Homo sapiens: one gene and its partners. The protein of the gene in region 1 purifies or fractionates together with the protein of each later gene. This does not show direct contact. Each region holds a gene or a part of one and is shown in the gene's direction. Other genes may lie near its edges.

Region 1 (7,400 bases):
ATTTTATAGAAATCTTCTTCCTATTACTCATGTGTGTATAGAAGAAGGAGAAAAGCCCATGGTGATATTGCCTTACATGAATTGGGGGAATCTTAAATTGTTTTTACGACAGTGCAAGTTAGTAGAGGCCAATAATCCACAGGTGAGAAAAATTTGCCCAAATACCAATTATTTACCAGTAGTTTCTGATAATGTCTTTGAAAGTAGATATTAACATTCTTAAATATAAACTGTTTAGAGGCCTGCAAAAAAGAACCTCAAAATGAACCACAAGATATTTATAACCTGTTGGCTTAAAGGAAAATGTTGGCTTATGTTCCTGCCTTGAGGCTTACACTGTGCTGATGCTGAAGTTTTCCTTATATTCTCGTTGTGTACTTATTCATAATCAACTCAAACCCTTTGTAATGCCATCTTAGGTGTTTTCCTGATAACTGAGGGTACTTGTCCTAGATCTTCCTCTTAGGAATGGAAACAGACTTTCTAGAGCCATTTGGTTCATACTATACCAAAGTCTGGTGATGACTGGAGGTCTAGATTGTGGGAGATAATTGGATGTATTGTTAATATGCGTGGCTGTAAGATGGCAGTCATCTAAGAGTGTTTCTCTTCCCTGCTTGTGTTTATAACTGTAAAGCAAAGGTCAGATACCAAGCATATTATGATGGTAGTGGTAGTAAAGCCTAGTGGGTTTTTTTTGCTGTCAGCTGTATCTTGTTGTCCCATTAAGTTGCTTTAGGATTTATAATAGTATGCTTATTATAGTTGCCAGGAGAAAGTGGGTTCAAAGGCTGCATTCAGTATTTGGCCTAATATGTATCATATGCTTTGTAAATTGACAAGACTAAAGCTGGGATTCTCAATAAGTGGTTAGAGGCTGTGGCTCATCTGCATTACCTGGGGAAGGATTTTATTCCTCAGCCCCAAGTACTGTCATACACCTAGAAGAACACATCAGCAGAAAAAGCTAGGAGCTCGTACTTTGGGTTTGTGTGTGGTTTTTTTTTGTTTGTTTTTTGTTTTTTGTGTTTTTTTTTGAGATGGAGTCTCGCTCTGTCGCCCAGGCTAGAGTGCAGTGGCGTGATCTCAGCACTGCCAGCTCTGCCTCCCAGGTTCACGCCGTTCTCCTGCCTCAGCCTCCCGAGTAGCTGGGACTACAGGCGCCTGCCACCACGCCCGGCTAATTTTTTGTATTTTTAGTAGACGGGGTTTCACCGTGGTAGCCAGGATGGTCTCAATCTCCTGACCTCGTGATCTGCCTGCCTCAGCCTCCCAAAGTGCTGGGATTACAAATGTGAGCCACCGCACCCAGCTGCAGGGTTTTTTTGTTTTTTGTTTCATTAGACAGGATCTCAGTCACCAAGGGTAGAGGGCAGTGGTGTGATCACAGCTCACTGCAGCCTCAACCTCCCATGCTTAAGCAATCCTCCCACCTCAGCCTCCTGAGTAGCTGGGACCACAGGAACATGCCACCATACCTGGCTAATTTAAAAAAAAATCATTTTGTGTAGAGACAGGGCCTCAGTATGTTGTCCAGGTTGGTCTCGAACTCCTGGGCTCAAGTGATCCTCCCACCTCAGCCTTCCCAAGTGCTGGGATTATAGGCATGAGCCACTGCACCAGGCTTAGATTTGTGTTAATTTGAAAATAATCCCAAAGAGAGAATCTCCTAATAAAAACTACTGTTTGGGGGAAAAAAAGATTACTGAATTATAAACATTTGAAATATTACCTTGAGAACTCAGCATTCACTGAACAGATGTATTGAGCAGCTGCTGTGTGTGCTGGATATTGGGGAGATACATCTAACAGATGAAAGGAGACAGAGTAAATGGTAGATTACAGAATAATAAGGACTACAGTTGATATAAGTATAGGGATATATGGGAACATAGTCTTGGTCAAGAAATAGCTTTTAAAAATTCTGTGTGTAGGTTTAAAGCAGTATTTTTGGATGGAGTAGGATTGTGGAATAAAAAAAGTAAGAAAGTGCCATCATATTTGTGTGCTATTTGCAAACCATGTTATTTTTTGTTACCACAGGCAATTTCTCAGCAAGACCTGGTACACATGGCTATTCAGATTGCCTGTGGAATGAGCTACCTGGCCAGAAGGGAAGTCATCCACAAAGACCTGGCTGCCAGGAACTGTGTGTAGGTGCCATGAGCTTGACGCTGTCACTTGATGTAGAGTGCTTCCTGGATTTGGGGTTCTCTGCGAGTCACAGTGGGACTTGTGTTGTATTTAAGGGTGGTGATGATCCCTACTTTTTAATACTCTGATTGCATTTGATGTTCATATCTTTACTTTTCAGCATTGATGACACACTTCAAGTTAAGATCACAGACAATGCCCTCTCCAGAGACTTGTTCCCCATGGACTATCACTGTCTGGGGGACAATGAAAACAGGCCAGTTCGTTGGATGGCTCTTGAAAGTCTGGTTAATAACGAGTTCTCTAGCGCTAGTGATGTGGTAAGTGCCGGGACCCCCAGATAGCAAAAGAATAGAGAAACAGCTTTCTGTTTTTAAATGTTCTACTATTTTTATCTTTTGGGTTTTTAAAAAATCTGCTAGCTGTTCCCGGAAATTTTTATCCAGAAAGCAAGTGTAATTAGCTGCCAGTCAACCAGTTTATGGAGAGGAGCTGTGACCCAGACCATAGGCCAGCACTGTTTGTAATCTCATTTCATCCTCACAGTACTGCTCTGACAGAAGCACTTTTTTTTTTTTTTTTTTTAAGACAGAGTTCCACTCTTGTAGCCCAGGCTGGAGTGCAATGGCGCAATCCTGGCTCACTGCAACCTCTGCCTACCAGGTTCAAGCGATTCTCAGGCCTCAGCCTCCCAGGTAGCTGGGATTACAGGCGTGTGCCACCATGGGCACATGCCCAGCTAATTTTGTATTTTTAGTAGAGACGGGGTTTCACCATGTTGGCCAGGCTGGTCTTGAACTCCTGACCTCAGTTGATCCACCTGCCTCCGCCTCCCAAAGTCCTGGGATTACAGGTGTGAGCCACCACGCCCATTGACAGAAGCACTATTAACACTAGGAGATAGGCTGTGGTATCCCAGTTTTAAAGGTGAGGATTTTGAGACTCAGAGCAGTTACAGTAATTTCATTATTATTTCTTTCTTATATAAGAGGCAGACCAAATAGTTGCTAGATCATAAAGATGTTTTCTTTTTTTCAGGTGACCTCTTCTAAGTGTTATGGCTCATAAAATTTGTAAATCCCCCCGTCATCCTCTTCCTTTTGTCAAGTTTCTGGGTGGTTTTGCCACTTAGCCAGATCATAGTTGGGCCCTTTGTGATGTACAGTTTCAGAAGCCACGTTCACTTGTTCATATTTTACAGCCATGTAAAATTTCTGTCACTTGATTTCTTAGTCTTATTTGGAAGACTAAGTGTAATTTATTTTCCTGTCTCTTGCCTGTTAGACTTTATTATTGTTGCAGAATATTTAGGGATTAGGTAAAACTTCTGCTTATAGGGTCCCACATATGTTCACTCAGTGATAATCTGTTTGTGTTATATGTAAAATCCTATAGAATAATTTGCTTCTAAGCTTCAACTGTAAGAATTGGGCTTACTGTATCATTGTATTTTGTGTGTCTATATTTTAAAATTTAGGGCTACTCTTTTGTTTCAAAGTGTGTATGTTTTAAGGATTAATCTTTTAATCATGTATTACTGTACGCTAATTAATTATATTAATTGGTATATACTCATTTCCTCGGTGTATGAGTTTTCTGTGGCTGCTGTAGCAAATTACTACAACCTTGGTGGCTTAAAACAATAGAAATATAGTCTCTCGTGGTTCACTTCTGAGGCCAAATGTCTGAAATCAAGGTGTAGTCAGGGCTGGGCTCCTTCCAGAGGCTCTAGTGGAGAAGCAGTCCTTGCCTCTTTCAGCTCTGGTGGCTGTTGGCATTCTTTGGCTTGCGGTTCCATCCCTCTGTTCCAAGTTCATACCACCTTCTTCTTCACATACGTCTTTCAAACTCTCTTTGCCTCCCTCTTAAAAGGATACATATGATTTAGAACCCACTTACATAATCCAGAATAAACTTTTCCTCTCAAGATCCTTAATCACGTTTTGTCATGTAAGGTAATTACAAGTTTCAGGGAGTAGGACATGGGCATATCTTTGGGGCTACCATTCAGTTCACTGCAGTCAATAATTGAAATGATCTAAGATTTCTTTACTGAAAAACTGATATTCTAATTTAAAATCCTTAAAATGAGAATAATTTGAGAAAGGGGAAAATTCCTTTAATTAACTCTAACTACTAAATAAATTTTTTTTCCTTTTTAGAAACTATGTGCTATTTGATATTGATATGGTTTGGCTATGTCCCCACCCAAAATCTCATCTTGAATTGGAATTCCCATAATCCCCACGTCAAGGGCGAGACCAAGGGTGGAGATAATTGGATCATGGGGGGCAGGTTCCCCCATGCTGTTCTAGTGAGTCTCACGAGATCTGATGCTTTTATCAGCGTCTGGCATTTCCCCTGCTCACACTCACTCCATCCTGCCACCCTGTGAGGAAGGTGCCTGCTTCTTCTTTTCCTTCGTCATGATTGTAAGTTTCCTGGGGCCTCTCCATCATTGCAGAAATAAGTCAATTCAACCTCTCTCCTTTATAAATTACTCAGTCTTGGGTATTTATTCATAGCAGTGTGAGAAGGGACTAATACAGATATATTGCTCCTTTTACATACCAAGTATTTTGATAAAATGTGTTCACTTAATGTGAATGAGCAATTTACTTATATAATTTTTAAATTTTTTTTTTTTTTGAGACAGAGTCTCGCTCTATCACCAGACTGGAGTGCAGTGGCGCGATTGCAGCTCAGTGCAACCTCCGCCTCCTGGGTTCATGCGATTCTCCTGCCTCAGCCTCCTGAGTAGCTGGGACTATAGGCGCGCACCACCATGCCTAGCTAATTTTGTTAAAATCAAGGTCTTTCATTTTATATATCTTCAAAATACTTTGTTTTAACTCAAGATAAACTATTCTCAAAGAAACAATTTATCTGACATTTGTGAGATGAACAAAGTAAATATGAATGATTATGAGAAGGGATGTGATCTGCTTCACAGAGCAGTCTCAGAAGCTAACACTGAATGACAACCTGTTTCATGTTGTCCACAGCCTCTCCTAGCCAGAGAGGCATCGGGCATGGTGGGTGATGGGTGGCAGGATGAGGGAAATAAAGCCAGACTCTTGGATACTGAATCCCAGGGTTCAGCTTATAGAGCAGTGGGGTACTAGTCCTGGTCTGTTTTTCCAGAGCTCTGATGATAAAGAAAAAATCTCTCTCTAGCATTAATGTCTAGAAGTTAAACATACCAAGTAAAGCAGTACAAATATGCAAAGCAGGTTATATTCTTTTTAAATCTCTACGTAATGAGAACCTGGGCTTTTTTTTAGGGAGAGAAAGGTTACATTTTTGGTTTTGATTTTTATATTTTTCAAATGACATACGAAGGGAAAGCAGAGTTTGATTTTAGACCAATGCACAGCTGCTGTACTGAATGACAGTAAGGACTAGTTCTACTCTTTGATAATGTTTTTGGTTTTAGAGTTGCCAAATCTTTATTCAGAAATTCTGAATTGTAGCTGGAACTGTTTACCAGCTCTACATTAAGCAAAGCTATTTTCATGGAGTGGGAAAGGGGACAGGAGGAATTGGTTTGGCTTTGGTTGTAGAACATAATTTTAAAACATAATATCAGTTGAATTAGAGCAGTGTGATCTCAAATTTACTCCTTTAGTAAAAGCTCACATCTAAACATTTTTAAATGTAGAAAAGTGAAGTAAACTTTTCTTAGTGTTTACTTTGAAAATTTTATTCCGTAGTTGATTTAAAAGATGGATTCACTCGTCTCTTTGGGATGTTAATTTTTTTATTTCCAGTGGTTGATTTAAAATTTTTATTTTGTTATTTATTGAAATATAGTTGCCTTTGCTGAAATGATATGGCTGTTGTGGTGAACCAAAACTAGTTCGATGGGCAGAAAATGGAAGATAATTCTTAGATGATAATCTATAAGTATTTCGTGTAATTTGAAGAGGTTGGAAATCTTTTTATTATTCTCTTAGAAAAAGGAGCATTGATAGCTTGTATTTCAAAGGGGTATGCAAGATGGCAAGTAGTGCTATTTGCTTGCACAGTGGAGGCCCCCAAAATATGTATTACTTTTTTTTTTTTTCCTTAGCTACTTCTGTTGCCCAGGTGGGAGTGCAGTGGTACAGTCATAGCTCAGTGTAGCCTTGTACTCCTGGGCTCAAGTGGTCCTCCTGCCTCAGCCTCCTGAGTAGCTAGGACTACCAGTGTGTGCCACCACACGTGGCTAATTCTTTTATTTTTTGTAGAGATGGAGGCTTGCTGTGTTGCCCAGGCTGATCTTGTACCCCTAAGCTCAAGCGATCCTCCTGCCTTGACCTCTCAAAGCACTGGGATTACAGGCGGGAGCCACTGCACCCAGCCTGTATTACTTAATTTAACGTATTTATTTCTGTGTAGGTATACCATTGTATAATTAAGCGATGATAGGAATTATTTTTTTGTAACATTTATGATTAAATATTTTGTAGGACCTACAGAGTGAAAATTAAGTTAGATAATATACTTTCAACAAATGAGGCTATAGCTAATAATAAATCTCCAAGCAAGATGCTCCAAGAGCGTTGAGTCTCTTCAGCTGGGTATTAGCTGGCAAAGTTCATGTTGAGGATACATGGTTTGGTTAGGCAGAACATTTCAAATTATATCAGAAATAGTTATTTTTATGGTTATGACATTTTGCAGGAGTTCACACATTTTATGTAAGAATCTGCCATCATCAGAATGCAGTTACACCAAATACTTAGTTGCTTGTTCATGTGGCAGCTTTATTTTAAAATATCACCATTAACTTAATGGTGAGCAGATTCACAAGAGAATTACTTTAGTTAGTTATTTAGTTTGTTATTACAGATAGAGTTTTTTATTCATTCTCCTCCTCCGCCTCTTCCTCCTCGTCATCTTTGCCTTTCTCTTCCACCTTTGTCCAGACAACTTTAGTGGGACCTTTTGCGCCATCAGATTTTCCTTTAGACTTGCAGTTAGCAACATCCTTCTCATACTTCTCCTTCAGCTTTGTTGCCTTTGTGATGCAAAGCTGCTTTTTAGTGTCACTTAAATTACTCCACCTCTCACCTAGCTTTTTTGCCACATCTCCAATAGAGATGCCAGGGTCTGAATTCTTGGGGCAGAATTCTGAACAGAACAGGAAGAATCTGGACAGTGACCTTTTGGGGACATTGAGGTCCTTTTTGTTTTTTATTTTTTTGTTTTGCCTCCCTTAGATAGTCCATAATCCTTCATTTCTGAATCATAGCATATTTTAT
Region 2 (7,400 bases), on another chromosome or scaffold:
ATCCCGGGCGAGAGGGTGGCCACGGTGCTGGCGACAGACGCAGACAGCGGTAAGAACGCCGAGATCGCCTACTCGCTGGACTCCTCTGTGATGGGGATCTTTGCCATCGATCCCGATTCTGGGGACATCCTGGTCAATACCGTGCTGGACCGCGAGCAGACTGACAGGTATGAGTTTAAAGTTAACGCCAAAGACAAAGGCATCCCCGTGCTGCAGGGCAGCACTACGGTGATTGTGCAGGTGGCTGATAAAAATGACAATGACCCTAAGTTTATGCAGGACGTCTTCACCTTTTATGTGAAAGAAAACTTGCAGCCCAACAGCCCTGTGGGGATGGTCACCGTGATGGATGCTGACAAGGGGCGGAATGCAGAGATGAGCCTGTACATAGAGGAGAACAATAACATTTTTTCTATTGAAAATGACACGGGGACCATTTACTCCACAATGTCTTTTGACCGGGAACATCAGACCACATACACTTTCAGAGTCAAGGCTGTGGATGGGGGAGATCCTCCCAGATCTGCCACAGCTACAGTCTCGCTTTTTGTGATGGATGAAAATGACAATGCTCCCACAGTTACCCTTCCCAAAAACATTTCCTACACTTTACTGCCACCTTCGAGTAATGTCAGGACAGTAGTAGCTACAGTGTTGGCAACAGACAGTGATGATGGCATCAATGCAGACCTGAACTACAGCATTGTGGGAGGAAATCCCTTCAAGCTGTTTGAAATTGATCCCACTAGTGGTGTGGTTTCCTTAGTGGGAAAACTCACCCAAAAGCATTATGGCTTGCACAGGTTGGTGGTGCAAGTGAATGACAGTGGGCAGCCTTCCCAGTCCACCACGACTCTGGTGCACGTGTTTGTCAATGAAAGTGTTTCTAATGCAACTGCGATTGACTCCCAGATAGCTAGAAGTTTGCACATCCCACTCACCCAGGATATAGCTGGTGACCCAAGCTATGAAATTAGCAAACAGAGACTCAGTATTGTCATTGGCGTGGTTGCTGGCATTATGACGGTGATTCTAATCATCTTAATTGTAGTGATGGCAAGGTACTGCAGGTCCAAAAATAAAAATGGCTATGAAGCCGGCAAAAAAGATCACGAAGACTTTTTTACACCCCAACAGCATGACAAATCTAAAAAGCCTAAAAAGGACAAGAAAAACAAAAAATCTAAGCAGCCTCTCTACAGCAGCATTGTCACTGTGGAGGCTTCTAAGCCAAATGGACAGAGGTATGATAGTGTCAATGAGAAGCTGTCAGACAGCCCAAGCATGGGGCGATACAGGTCCGTTAATGGTGGGCCCGGCAGTCCTGACCTGGCAAGGCATTACAAATCTAGTTCCCCATTGCCTACTGTTCAGCTTCATCCCCAGTCACCAACTGCAGGAAAAAAACACCAGGCCGTACAAGATCTACCACCAGCCAACACATTTGTGGGAGCAGGAGACAACATTTCAATTGGATCAGATCACTGCTCTGAGTACAGCTGTCAAACCAATAACAAGTACAGCAAACAGGTAAGATGTATCCCAAATATATTTAAATATCCCAGGGAGGGCTAATAACTCTGAGACAGATTATCTTCTGTAAAGTTTTGTCTTCTCGTTTTTAAAGTTATTAAAATTTTAACAGTAGGAATTTAATGTTAATTTTTGCACCATTAATTTAGCAAAGGCCATCTACAAGAGGTATACCACTGTATTTTGCAAATTAGAATTAAGGTTCACTAAACTACTGAAAGAAGTATTCAGAGTAGGCAGTGTTTGGCAGTTCTCTTTGCACTTGACATCCCTAATTCATACTACATTTTTTTGTTTCCAGAATAAATATGTGTGTATTACTTAGATGGTTAGTTTTCACCTGAAATTATTTTCTTCTGTGGCAACTAAGTGGATAATTACATCCAGAGAAAAAGTTTCTAAAGTTACTACTGGTGTCTATGCAAATTGGATTCCATAGAAGTTTTAGCTATGTTATTTACAATGCAGGATTTTACAGATAAATAGATGCTGATTCATGCAGATGTAGTACTAAGTCTGAGATATTGAAATACTGACTACTTTGATGAAACTGCTGGTTTAAAAATATTTACTGATATGCAAATGTCATGCAAAACTCCACTTTCAATCTTTTATATCTATAATAATCGATACCTATAACAATTAGTGTTCTATAATGATATGCAATTACCATTTGCATTCTTTCTGTTTGGTATTAAAAGTTTGCAAACAAAAATACATTGCATGAGCCATTTATTATTTAAGCCAAGTAATGAAAATATTCATGATTGATGTACTGTGTGCAAGACTATTTTGGTATGCATTATGATATATTGAGAATGTAAAGATTATGTGGAATATTTGACATAATAGTTTCTCAGTGAAATGTGGAAACAGTAAAAAATACATATATTCTGAGGCGGAACTTAAGCAAATCTGAAATTTATTTTTGAAAGTTTTCCTCGTGTAATATAGCATCCTCAGAAAGTTTACTTTGTATATCTACCAAAGTTTGCCACACAGCAAACAAGACCTTTTGGAAAGGACTGTGTCTCATGGTACAGCAACCTCAGCTAATAAAACATTACGTATTTCTTACTGTCAGAACCCATCTCAAGAAACACAGTTATGATTGTCAATCTAATTTCTATTAAACATGCTTTGCATGTGGAATGTGGAATCCGAGAAGAATTGAGGCAAAGGAAAAAGTTATTTTATAGCCTCATTGAAGATTATAGTTATAGAAAGAGATATGAATTCTTAATTGCTTTCATGATTATTGAAATTAGTATTTTAAATAAATATTTTCTGTATATAGTACTTTACTGTAGCTATTCAGATAAGGAGAAACAGTCTGAATATACTTTTATATCTAATAACAAATGCAATCCAAGAAAACACCAGTTCAAACTACATTTGCATTAAATGGCTTTTGAAAATATGTCCTTTGGTGTATGTGAATTTGAATTATTTATTTATTTTAAACCAACATTTGACATAGTGGAGTGTTTATATCTGTTGTATTATTGTGTTACATGGAGTGAGAAGCTGATTTTTGTGTTGTTTTGGTGCTTTTATTGGTGTTGTAAACAAGGAAGATTCTAGCTAAAATGGTAGCACTTTTTACAGATTAAACACTCAAAAATAAATTGAGATTTGTAGACATTTCTCTAGAAAATAGTAACACCTAATGCAAAGGAGTGTGAAGAGATCTGTCTGCAGAATATTTACACCTCGGTTCTTATCCTAATGGTACTTCTGTCCTGTGTCTGGATAGCATTTGCGTTCTAAATTGTGTAATCTTATGCTTTTGAATGGACATATCAAGTGACACTTTTATGGATATTTTATGCAAACACTTCATATGTTCTGTGCTGTTACTTAAGCTTCATTTGGCTCATCAGATGAGGTTAGCTCTATATGCTTGAATATTTAAAACAGCTAATATCAAGACTGTTGGCATCCTGTTTAAAAGGCAAAGTGATATGCTTATAAATAAACTAATATATGGTGTTAGCCTTTTAACTGAGTAAAGAAGTCCACATTCCAAAAGAGAAAACCCTCAAAGCAATTGGAATGAATCACACAGTTTGCCAAAAGTGACTTTGGAAAACTTTTCTGTCATTACATATTCAAAAGAAGTATACACTTTTAACCCCAAGTAAATAGCTGACCTAAAATGAAATAAAGGCAGATGAAACACATTCCCCTTAATGTAATTAGTAATAGTAATTGATATGTTTCATCTCCTCAATATTGCTGTCAGGGGACAAGGGATCCATTTACAAAGTTACATTCCGTTTTGACATCTGACATAAATGGGATCCTTTTTGTTCTGCTTTTTGTTTGTGCCATAAGTAGACAATTTCCTATTTTTATTTTTAAAATATATGACCTTTAATTTTTACAGAACTGCCAAAATATATTTTCTTTGATTAAACCTGATGTTATAAAAGAAAAAAAGAGAATTCAGGGTTTCGCGGGAATTTCCTTCTTTTGATAAATGGATTTATCTAAGGTAAAACTAGACTGTTGTATTCTTTCAATTCCATACAGCAGGGTCTAATTTAAAAATTGAGATTTCATTTTACATTCATTTTATTTATAGTTTTCCTGAATTGCCTTATTGCAGTTATTTATTTGTGAAAAAATTAAAGTGATGTTTCTTAAGAGTGTTCTTATCTTCATGAAAATTAGACATTTTAAAGTGTTGAACCTAAGTCCTGTTGTTTTCATTATAATAGGTTAAACAGCTTTGTAGAAATGAAAGTTTGTAAATAATACTCTCCCTTAACTGCTTACTTTTTGTTTTGTTTACATAGACTTGAGAGCCATTCAAATCAAGCTTCTATGGCAGACTCTAGGAAATGTGTGTGGTAGAGTTGCTGGAATTATTTCCGAAATTCACACTTTAGAAAAACTCACTGATGATGTAGCCCAAATTTTCATAGTTCATACCTTTGCATTTCAAACAAAAGCCTTTGCTCTCAGCTAAATAATGTGTTTAGCTGAGCAAAATGTGGATCATTGACAGCATGATTGAGATTAAGTATCCACCTTTCTGTTTCATTCTTCCTTGGTAAACCTGGTCTTGGTAGTTGTTAAACTTTTGTGAACTAGAAGTACAACTGTGTTTTTCATTCATAACATAAAGGCATACGCATTCTATTTTTCTGTTTATTTTTAAGTCTCTGGTATTTTACTATGTGCTAAGCATTTTTCAATTTTCTTTTAAAATAATGTAATCCCCCCAAAGAGTGATAGTATGAAAAGTACAGTTACTATTTTGCTTATTATTCTTGAATTCTATTGAGCTTATCCTTGATAGGCTGTTATTTAGATAATGCACTTACAAGTAAAAATTTTATTGTATTTAGTAAATGGAAAGTAAGGTAATTTATTTTTGGCAAGAGCTTAGTTTGAATAAACATCCATTTTAAAATCCACTTGCAGCTGATCCTGAAATACAAAAAATTTACATTAACTTCAGTGACAGTTTCAGTTTGTCTTCATAATGTTCTCTTTAGTGATCGAATTATGTTCAATATATTCATTGTATACCTAGTGAAAAAATTTGGGAGAATTTTTTAATTGCTTCAATTTTGGAAGCAAATGGTTGACTTGCTGTCATCTATTAAGCAATAAGAAAACTAAATGTCAATTCATTTGTGTGTGTGTGTGTGTGTATACATACATATGTATATATATATATATATATAGAGAGAGAGAGAGAGAGAGAGAGAGCATATATATATATTCTTTAGTGGAAATGCATCTACATAGTGATGCCAACCATAGCTTCCAGTGCTCATTCTGTAAGCATAATTTTTACAATGTTTTTCTCCTGTCTATAACCAAGGATGTTTTCATAAGGCACAATGAATCTGCATATGTTGTAATTTCCGTTACATTTGGCCTGATACCATAGGCAAAACACTAATAGCTGATGGAAGTTAGGCTGTGTCTTTAGTCATCTAGTAAAGCAACACTATCTGGATCTCTGGATGTCTATGAAATAAGGAAAAGGTCATCCATTGATTTGATCCGCAATGAATTTGCAAATTTATATGGAAGTCCACATGATTATTTGAATCTTATCCAAAACTTATCCTAAACCAATTAATGACTTAGATGTAAGACCACAAAGTCAGTTTAAATATTTTAATGAGCCATCTAGTACAATAAATATGGCAAAATCATTTTTTCTTATCCTTCTATCTTTGAGTAATTACATATCTCGTATGTGAAAAAGTGTGAACATGGTTTATATCACAAACTCTGTACACACAGAGACATATACACACATATTAGTGTATACCATTTATAGCTGTATTAGTCTTTTATTTAGTCATGATGTTTATAGATTAATATGTGAAAAATATCTAAGCTTAAACATACACAATGTTGAAATAAAATATACTATAATCAACAGCTTAATGACTGTACATGAAATCACTAGCATCATCACATTTTAGAATTACAAGGTGTCAAACAGTCCCCTCATTTTAATAGAAGAGGAGACTGAGGCCCAGCATGAAACAGTGACTTGATTGGGATTACAAAATTGTCAGGGATATAATGTGGACTAGAGTCCAAGTTATGGAATGTAGTGTCCAGTATTCTTATTTATCTGATCATACTACCTTTGGGGGAAAAAAACTGAATTTCTGTAACTTTCTGTGTGTGTATTTCAATTGCAGTAGAAATCTGTTGAAATTTACTTACTTATTTATGACTATATATTTGGCTATGAAGATTGACATCTTTACAATAGACTATAATTCTGCTTTAGGCTCCAGTTCTTCTGTGTAAAATTATCTGGGAAAATATAATTCAAAATTTACAGAATTTTAAAGAAGTTAATAATTCTTTTCCCTCATGTAGGATTGTAATTGATAACATAGAGTAAAGCATCTTAACATGGTTAAGAACATATATTCTGTTGACAGAATTTTTAATATTAGCAGAACAATGATAACAGACATAAGTTCCTTCCTAGCAATTAGTATATTTCAATAAAAATTCATTTAAATAGAAAAGAATTAAAACATTCTACACATTATGTATGAAACTTTTTATGCATTCTAATTGTGATAATCTTTTACCTTTTTCATCAATATTGATAATTACTTTTGACTTCTGGGCTTGTGTGCATTTTATCAACTTTGCACATACATTTTATTTTAGTAGCATCCTTAACACACAGTCATGCACGAATGTTTTCTCTTAATTTGTTTTCTAGCAAGTTTTTAGAAGAATATGACATTTTGTTAACTTTCAATTGGATTGCTTCCTTGTTAGGCAGTTAACCAATCTAGTGTACTAGATTCTAAATTTGCACAGTGATAAAATATAAATTATTGAATCTATTAATTTTAAAAATAAAATCTGAACTATTTTAAAAACTAAATATAGTGTGACAAAGCCATTACTTCAACACAGCAATCTACTCTATTAAACATTTTAACATCTTTTCTTTCCTGGGAGGATGTGGTGGTGGAGATTATGTAGGAGATTTAGTATAATTATATACAGTATTTTAAATATATATATAACTTTAAATATATAACATGACTTTGTTTAGAATAGTCATGTATAAAGAGTGTATAATCGATTTCTAGACTATGGCAAGGTTTCCCATTCATTTATTTACTATGACTCTATAGAAATAGTAAGAGCTGTTCCCATATATCTAGAGTAAGCTTTGCTTTTCTTAGTTTTTTTAAAAAAACCCATAGAATCTTTTCTAAAGCAGTGACTCTTTTGCGGTACATTACACTGTGCTTTATTTAGCATTAGTGTTGTGGGAAAAATCACATTCTAAGAAGAATTGAGCTGAAACCACTAAAACTAATCTTAATTATCACTTCTGGTGAATTAATGTTTTA
Region 3 (8,133 bases), on another chromosome or scaffold:
ATTCCTGACTCTGAATGTATATGCTACTGATAAATAATCATTTTCTTACATTTATTCACACATAAGTACTTAACAGTAGAAAACATGACATACCATTAATGCAGTGAAAAAATAAAGTGTTCGGGGTAACTAAGCAGCAGAGTAGCACCCCCAGAATACCTCCATCAGCTGTTAAAGAATAACAACAACAAGCAATAGCAGTGTTCAGTCTCCACCTATGATGCTGTGTTTTAATTATATAGTTACTGTACACTGTATTTTATTTTTTTAGATAAGAAGAAATCTTAGAAATAGTTGAAGGACTAGAAAGTGGGTCCTCTGAGGCATTCAGCTGGATGCCTTTTTAAAATGTTTTCTCCAGTCATCTGCCCCATTACCAACTGTTTTTGTCTTAGAAGTCCCTCTTTGATTATATAAACCAACATTATTTCTTGTTCTGTTATGAATGAACATTGCTTTAGTCCTTCAGTAAGCCCATCACAAATTTTCACCATGTCATTTATAGGCACTTTCTCTGTAGTGTTAACATCATCTTCATTGTCACTGATTATCACGATCAACTTGATTCAAAACCATTTCAGCTACTTCATCATTGGTCAGCGAATGAACAACTGGAGCCTCATTATCCATGATAAACATTGTTTGATATTCACTTCTTCCAGCTTACAGACAGACAGACATTGGGGGTATATTTTTTGCATGTGTGAGTAGATCAGCCGTTATTTTTTTTCTCACTTGACATACACAATCCTTCAAAGTCACTACCTTGTTTATCATCACTGAACATAGTTGCAGGCCAGAGATTGTGCCAGGCATGCACAACTTTGTCTATAGTCACTATGTTCCAAGCATAGGCAACAGCATATATGGCATCCTGCAGACTAAAATTTTTTTTTTTTTTTTGAGATGGAGTTTCGCTCTTGTCACCCAGGCCAGAGTGCAATGGCGTGATCTCAGCTCACTGCAACCTCCGCCTTCCAGGTTCAAGCAATTCTCCTGTCTCAGCTTCCGGAGTAGCTGGGATTACAGGTGCCCGCCACCATGCCTGGCTAATTTTTGTATTTTTTAGTACAGACAGGATTTCACCATGTTAGCCAGGCTGGTCCTGAACTCCTGACCTCAGGTGATCCACCTGCCTCGGCCTCCCAAAGTGCTGGGATTACAGGCATGAGCCACTGCATTCGGCCTCATACTAAACTTTTTTTGAAAACCTCCACGCCCATTCTTCTGTTTATTGCTGCTAGCATGCTGTTCAAGAAAGTATTTTTATATTTATCCTTCAATGCTTTAAGGATATCCTGGTCACATAGCTGAATCAATAAAGTCACATTTGTGGGGAAGTACATGGCATAAACATGATTTTTGATAAGAATTTCAGCTGGAGAATAAGCAGAACAGTTGTCAAGGAATATAAAATCTTGTAGTCGTCATCCAGTTCAGCTTTCCTGCAGTGACTGTATGCCTCTGGTACAAAATGTTTGTGAAATCAATCAGAAAAGATGTCCTTGGTCATCCATGCCTTTTTGTTAGCAGAATAATGGACTGATAAGAAATTCACTCCTTGAAAAAAAGAGAGGACAAACCTTTGCCTATCACAGCAAGTTTACACTTATGCGTGCCTGCAACATTAGCACATCCCAGCACAGCTATTCTGTCCTTGGCATTTTTAATTCCTATAGAGGCTGTCTCATCTGCCACCGTCAGTGTCTTTCTGGGGCAATGATGCCAAAATAGTGATGTTTCGTCAGCATTATAGACGTGCTCTGGTATCCAGTTTTCATCAGCGATGATATGGGCAAACTCATTAATGACTTTTTCCACAGCTTTCTGATCTGCAGATGCTTTATCACCACAAATCCTTAAACATTTAGTGCTGTGTCTTTGCTTAAATATCTGCAACCAGCCTGTTGAATAGTCACAGTTCCTTTCAATTTCAAATTCATTGTGATAGATCTTTGCTTGTTTCATGATCAGCATACCATTAAGTGGCATGTGGTCACTGTGATGCCGATGGATCCACTTTTTCAGTGCACAATTGAGATCTTCATATTTTGCATCATACAGTGTTTTTCTATTTTTCATTTACTTGTGTTTATCGCTTTTAGCATAGATCTTCAATTTATCCTTCTGTTTCTTCAGATTATACATGGCGGTCATTCTGTCACCATACTTTTCTGTAACAAATCTCATACCCATACCACTGTCCAGTTTCTCTAACAGCTGGACTCTGTTGCATAAACATAATAAATGCTTCCTCTTTTTATCACTGATAACCACAGATTAACTTCAGGCTTCTTTGATATTTCTTTTTTTTTTTCTTTTGTTTTTTTTTTTTTTTTTGGAGATGGAGTCTTGCGCTGTCACACAGGCTGGAGTGCAGTGGCACGATCTCGGCTCACTGCAACCTCCACCTCCCTGGTTCAAGCGATTTTCCTGCCTCAGCCTCCCAAGTAGCTGGGATTACAGGTGCCCGCCACCACACCTGGCTGATTTTTTTGTATTTTTAGTAGAGACGGGGTTTCACTATGTTGGCCAGGCTGGTCTCAAACTCCTGACCTCGTGATCCGCCCGCCTTGGCCTCCCAAAGTGCTGGAAGTACAGGTGTGAGCCACTGCACCCGGCCTGATATTTCTTTATACTAACAATAGCTTTACACCACAGAGCAAAGAAAAGGAAAACAAAAACCAAAAAACAACAAAAAAGCAAACCCACAGTGAGTAATGCACGTAGATGAAGGCCCAGTGTGGGCATTGTGGGGAACTTGTCGTTGGCAAATCCAGCCTGCATGCATGCCATTTGATTACCTTTGGGGGGCACGCTTGCATGGGGGAATTTAGGCATGCCCTGAAAAGATATATAGCAGCAGAAAAGGGCTGGGAGGGGCTTTTTTCCCTTGGGGATGCTAGTAAACTGCATAGTGTGTCTGCATTTTGATGGTGACCCATCACATGTGACCAGGTGTGGAATTTTGCACTTGAGGTATTACTTGTCGGAACTCAAAAAGTTTTGGATTTTGGAGCATTTCAGGTTTTGGATTTTTGGATTAGGGATGCTCAATGCTCAATCTGTAGTAAGGTTTTATCTTAATCAAAAAACAGATCATTATTTTGTTAGGGAATAATAATTCTTCAGATAAATTCAAGAGAAATGTGATCCATTTCACCCACCTTAACACAGAGGCACCAGTGTGCCTGCTAAGGTTATTTATAGATCCGAAGTCACTTAATGGTGCAGATAATCTCCCACTTTTTCTTCCCATCATAGTGTCTGGGCTTATGTTGTTCAACACCAACAGGGTAGCCACTGGGCATTTAAATTCAAATGTAAATTAATTAAAATGAAATGAAAAATTTAATTCTTATTGCACACTATCTACATTCCACACACTATGTAGCCACAGTTGGCCACCATATTAGACAGCAAAGAACTAGAACAGCTATACAATCACAGAATGTATTATTAGACAGCACTGGACATGGTTGGGTTGGTCAAATGAACTGCTATTCAAATTTAATACAACACTGATAAATGATAAATGGAGACCATTTATTTACTTCCCATTGAGAAAGCTCTAGCCAGATAAACAGATTCCTGCAAATTGGTCCCTAAGATAAATTTTGTAGGGGCCAGAGGCAGTAGTGTCCTTAGACCCAAGCAAGAAAAACCGTGTTCTAGGCCCTCCATTTTAGAGGACACCAACCTGACTCTTCTTATGGGGTGAAAAATCTCCAGGCCAGCACCCAAAGCCTGGGTACCCACTATGTCCCCAAGACCCAGGACCCTGGAATTCCCTGACTGGTATTACCAAAGCCACTTCTTGGCCCTGAGCTAGCTTCTTCTGAGAACTGTCCTCCCAATGAAGGACCCAACAACTGGTATAGGCACACCTGAGATCCAGACGCAGACAGAGGGTGGCTGTTAGAAAGTGTGAACAGAACTTGGTTTTGTGGGCTGCGGTGTTCACACACAGGTACAAAAAATCCCCTCTTGTCCTTGAAGATAGCTGGGCACAGGAAGCAAAGACGGTGAAGGTGTACAGGCCAAAGGTTTGGATCTGACTCTTTCCCACCTGCCATGTTTCAGGGAGAAACTCCAAGGTGTCTGAGAATCCTGCTTACAAACCTTCCAGGTTGTTATGAAGGTAATTTCTCAAGGCAGGAGCACAGAATATATTTTATTAGCATGATATAGTCCTTGTAAAATTTTAAACATAGGGTAGGTAAGCCCTGGGCTTGCAAATGTTAGGGCGAGGCTGGAAGTCAGAGTAATCAATTCTGTTGGGGTTTCTTGGAGGGTTTGCTCATTATTGCTCGAACTGGTGAACATCTCAAGTATCTTTGCCTGTCGAATTTCTTTCAAAAGGCTGCCTTTCTAGTGAGGTCCAGATGCATCCTTTAGAGACCATCGCTGTTGTTGCTGAAGGCCAGAAACAGCTTCAGATTGTTCACTGTATTGAAGAGGAACCTGTTTACTGGCTCCAGTGTATTTGGGACAAATAAGACTACCATAATGAGGTGAGAAGGCGATTCCTTCCGAAACACTTGGTTTTGGGTACTTTTCCCATAGGGTTGGTCAGGGAAATTCCCTACTCTCGTCCCTACTCCATCCTCCGGGCCAGGCTCCTTGGGCCACATGGGCAGTCTCCAGGAGCGCACAAGACTGCTTTGTCCTGTGCCCGCGGTGCGAGCGCGGTGGCGGCGAAGGGAAACGAGCAGGAGAGTGGCCACCGCGGGTGGAGTTTGGACTCGAACTTTCCTCCGTTCGGACTCGAACTTTCCTCCGTTCTCTCTACGAGTTACTGCCTTCCCGCGGGCTCCCCACAACTCCTGCCCGGAGGCCGAGGCCCGGGCGCGCACCGGGTCGGAGTCGGGCTCGGCAGGTCCCGGGAGCGCGCGCCTCCTCCCCGAGGTCCCGGGCAGCTGCAGACACGGGGAGAGCAGGAGAGCCGGGAAAGAGGAGGGGAAGGGGCGGGGGCGGCCGCCGGCGGCGGGCGGGGAGGAGCCGCCGCGCGCGGGTCCTGGCCAGGGGAGGAGGCAGTGGCGGCGGCGGCGGCGGCAGAGGAGGAGGAGGAGGCGGTGCTCGCGCCGGGCGGTAGAGCGGCGCTGGGACCCATGCGGCCGTGACCCCCGGCTCCCTAGAGGCCCAGCGCAGCCGCAGCGGACAAAGGAGCATGTCCGCGCCGGGGAAGGCCCGTCCTCCGGCCGCCATAAGGCTCCGGTCGCCGCTGGGCCCGCGCCGCGCTCCTGCCCGCCCGGGCTCCGGGGCGGCCCGCTAGGCCAGTGCGCCGCCGCTCGCCCCGCAGGCCCCGGCCCGCAGCATGGAGCCACCCGGACGCCGGCGGGGCCGCGCGCAGCCGCCGCTGTTGCTGCCGCTCTCGCTGTTAGCGCTGCTCGCGCTGCTGGGAGGCGGCGGCGGCGGCGGCGCCGCGGCGCTGCCCGCCGGCTGCAAGCACGATGGGCGGCCCCGAGGGGCTGGCAGGGCGGCGGGCGCCGCCGAGGGCAAGGTGGTGTGCAGCAGCCTGGAACTCGCGCAGGTCCTGCCCCCAGATACTCTGCCCAACCGCACGGTCACCCTGTGAGTATCTCCCGCGACGCTGGGTCCTCTCCCGCTCGGCTCTTTCTTATCTCTCCGCTCAACTTTGGAGCAGGGTCCAGCCGGCACCCACGCGCCTTTGTGTGGAGCTGTAGGCAGGGGGCGGTGCTAGGAAAGACCTCGTGTGCTTGGCATGGGTGCAGTTCAGGGAAAGGCAAGGGAATCTGCGTCCGAGCTGCCTCCCAGCTCCACTAGTTTGCAAAGTAAAGTTTTCGGGTTCTCAGGCGCTCCCCGCGCTGTCCCCGGCGCAGCGCTTTTGGGCTGCGCGGTGCCACGTGAGGATGCAAGTAAACACGCAGTCAACAGAGTTAAAGCTCATTCATCCTGGGCTTGGGTTTCCAGAAAACACAATGCTTGATTGCAAGCGCCAGTCCTTCTGCTTCTTTGCAAATTAAGTTACACTTACGTGGTAGAGTTTGCAAAACACAAGGACTGTGTGCGAGCCCAAACCCCAAGACGCTTCCTTTGCCTTTTGCTATCTTAGTTTTATTACAGTTAAAGAGCACCTTTTAAGATAGAGTTGTTATTAAGGGCTGGAAACATTTCAGATCAATCTGTTTATGTACCTTGCAGTCCCGTTTTCGTGTCTGTGAGGGCTTATATTTAAAAGCCAGGAACATTGGAACTGAAAACCGTGGGTTTATTGAGCCTTCCAACTCGAGGGATTTTTGATTTTCGGATTGAGTTTCCACCTGGAAGGAAAAATTTTGGTAACTCACTTGTGCTGGGATTCACGGTTCAGTTTTGCAAACGTAGTTTTGCCAATTCTAGCTGAACAGTTGGCCCCAGTGACTGTCGAGTTTGTTTTCAGAAGGATGAATTGGTTTGGAAAGTTTTGAGTCTAAGTGTTTCTCATGGGTATTTTGTTCAACTGAAATGTGAGTCCCTTGGCTCGGGGTTCCTCTATGTTGTTTTGGTTGGTTTCCTAAAAAAAGAATCAAGGCAGCCACTATACAAACATGAATGCAAGGACCGCAGCATGATCTATGAAAACACTTAAAGTATGGTTTTAAATGTAACCCAAATTCAGCAGGAGTATACACAGGTAGGCCAGGTATACATTTCATTACTAACACTTTTGTTTACCTTCATTTCCATTTTTTGAATTAGGAAACGTTTAACCATGAAAATTGTGTCTATGTGTCTATTTATGGAGGCATGAAGATGGATGAAAGAGTTTTTGTTTTATTTGACTCCGTTACTAACACGTTACCATGTGGTGGTGGCAGCAGTTATATTTATTTATTTCTTAGTCAGATTCTTTGAAGTGGAAATTTTCGGTATGGGACTTTAATTACAGTCCAAATGGAGAAAATCCCAATGTTGGAGGAGATTTTCTTTGTTACTCTGCAAAAATTAGTCATCATGCAGTTATGTTATAAACATTTAGGTTTTGGGTCAATGAGTGACATTTACGTTGACTCATGTTTAGGTCCAGTTTTTCTGACCTAAAAGTGTCCACAATTTCAGCTGGATTAGGTCAACTACTAGTAAATTGTTGATTTTGCGTTGCAGAAAAAAATAGGGGATATGGTGGTAAATTGATTTTCAGCATATTACCAATTAAACTATTTTTCTACAATTTTTAGAAACTGGTTAAAATATAAGTAACTATGAAATGTCATTTCAATCCAGTTTTTTTTTTTTTTTTTTTTTTTTTTTTTGCCTGAAAGCTTTTTAGATGAAAATAAAGTTAAGGTTGGGCATGGTGGGCTCACACCTGTAATCCCAGGGCTTTGTGAGGTCAAAGCGGGTGGATCCCTTGAGGTCAGGAGTTCAAGACCAGCCTGGCCAACTTGACGAAACCCTGTCTCTACTAAAAATACAAAAATTAGCCAGGCGTAGTGGCGTATGCCTGTCATTCCAGCTACTTGGAAGGCTGAGGCAGGAGAATCACTTGAACCCGAGAGGTGGAGATTGCAGTGAGCCGAAATCGCACCACTGCACTCCAGCCTATGTAACAGAGTGAGACTCCCATTCAAAAAAAAAAAGAAAAAAAAAATTTGTTTAGTGAATGGGAAGAAGATACAATTAAGGATCAATTAAAGCTGTTCTGCTGGTTGTGGTGGCTCATGCCTGTAATCCTAGTACTTTGAGAGGTGGAAGTGGGTGGATCACCTGAGGTCAGGAGTTCGAGACCAGCCTGGCCAACATGCTTAAAGCCCCATCTCTACTAAAAATACAGAAAATTAGCTGGGCGTGGTGGCGTGCACCTGTAATCCCAGCTAGTCGCTACTCGGGAGGCTGAGGCAGGAGAATTGCTTGAACCCAAGGAGAAGGAGTTTGCAGTGAGACAAGAAGGCACCATTGCGCTCCAGCCTGGGTAACAAGAATGAAACTCCATCTCAAAAAAAAAAAAAAAAAAAGAGGAAAGTTGTTCTGGCTGAAGAGGGTTCAAGGTATATGAGGCCCCCTGTAGAGGGGTCTTATGGGCCAGTTTCCTCATTTTACTGGGGAAAGAGTTAGAGTTACTGTAGATAAGGGACTTGCTCACCAGAATTCTCATAGTAGCATCAGAGTCCACGTCCCAGATTCCTGTCC

What was found. The genes of interacting proteins can lie anywhere in the genome.
Region 2: the proteins of RYK (region 1) and PCDH7 purify together in Homo sapiens (affinity purification with mass spectrometry; 3 studies listed by BioGRID and IntAct, with this or other methods). This does not show direct contact.
Region 3: the proteins of RYK (region 1) and ADGRA3 purify together in Homo sapiens (affinity purification with mass spectrometry; 3 studies listed by BioGRID and IntAct, with this or other methods). This does not show direct contact.

The regions. Positions count from the first base shown.
Region 1 is NC_000003.12:134,170,683-134,178,082, reverse strand, and holds part of RYK (tyrosine-protein kinase RYK isoform 2 precursor), read left to right. Parts: intron 1-9; coding exon 10-142; intron 143-2,043; coding exon 2,044-2,153; intron 2,154-2,314; coding exon 2,315-2,474; intron 2,475-7,400. UniProt on the Homo sapiens protein: May be a coreceptor along with FZD8 of Wnt proteins, such as WNT1, WNT3, WNT3A and WNT5A. Involved in neuron differentiation, axon guidance, corpus callosum establishment and neurite outgrowth.
Region 2 is NC_000004.12:30,723,067-30,730,466, forward strand, and holds part of PCDH7 (protocadherin-7 isoform d precursor), read left to right. Parts: coding exon 1-1,530; intron 1,531-7,400.
Region 3 is NC_000004.12:22,512,969-22,521,101, reverse strand, and holds the start of ADGRA3 (adhesion G protein-coupled receptor A3 precursor), read left to right. Parts: upstream 1-5,035; 5' UTR 5,036-5,317; coding exon 5,318-5,574; intron 5,575-5,716; exon of another isoform or gene 5,717-5,790; intron 5,791-8,133. UniProt on the Homo sapiens protein: Orphan receptor that may have a role in planar cell polarity pathway.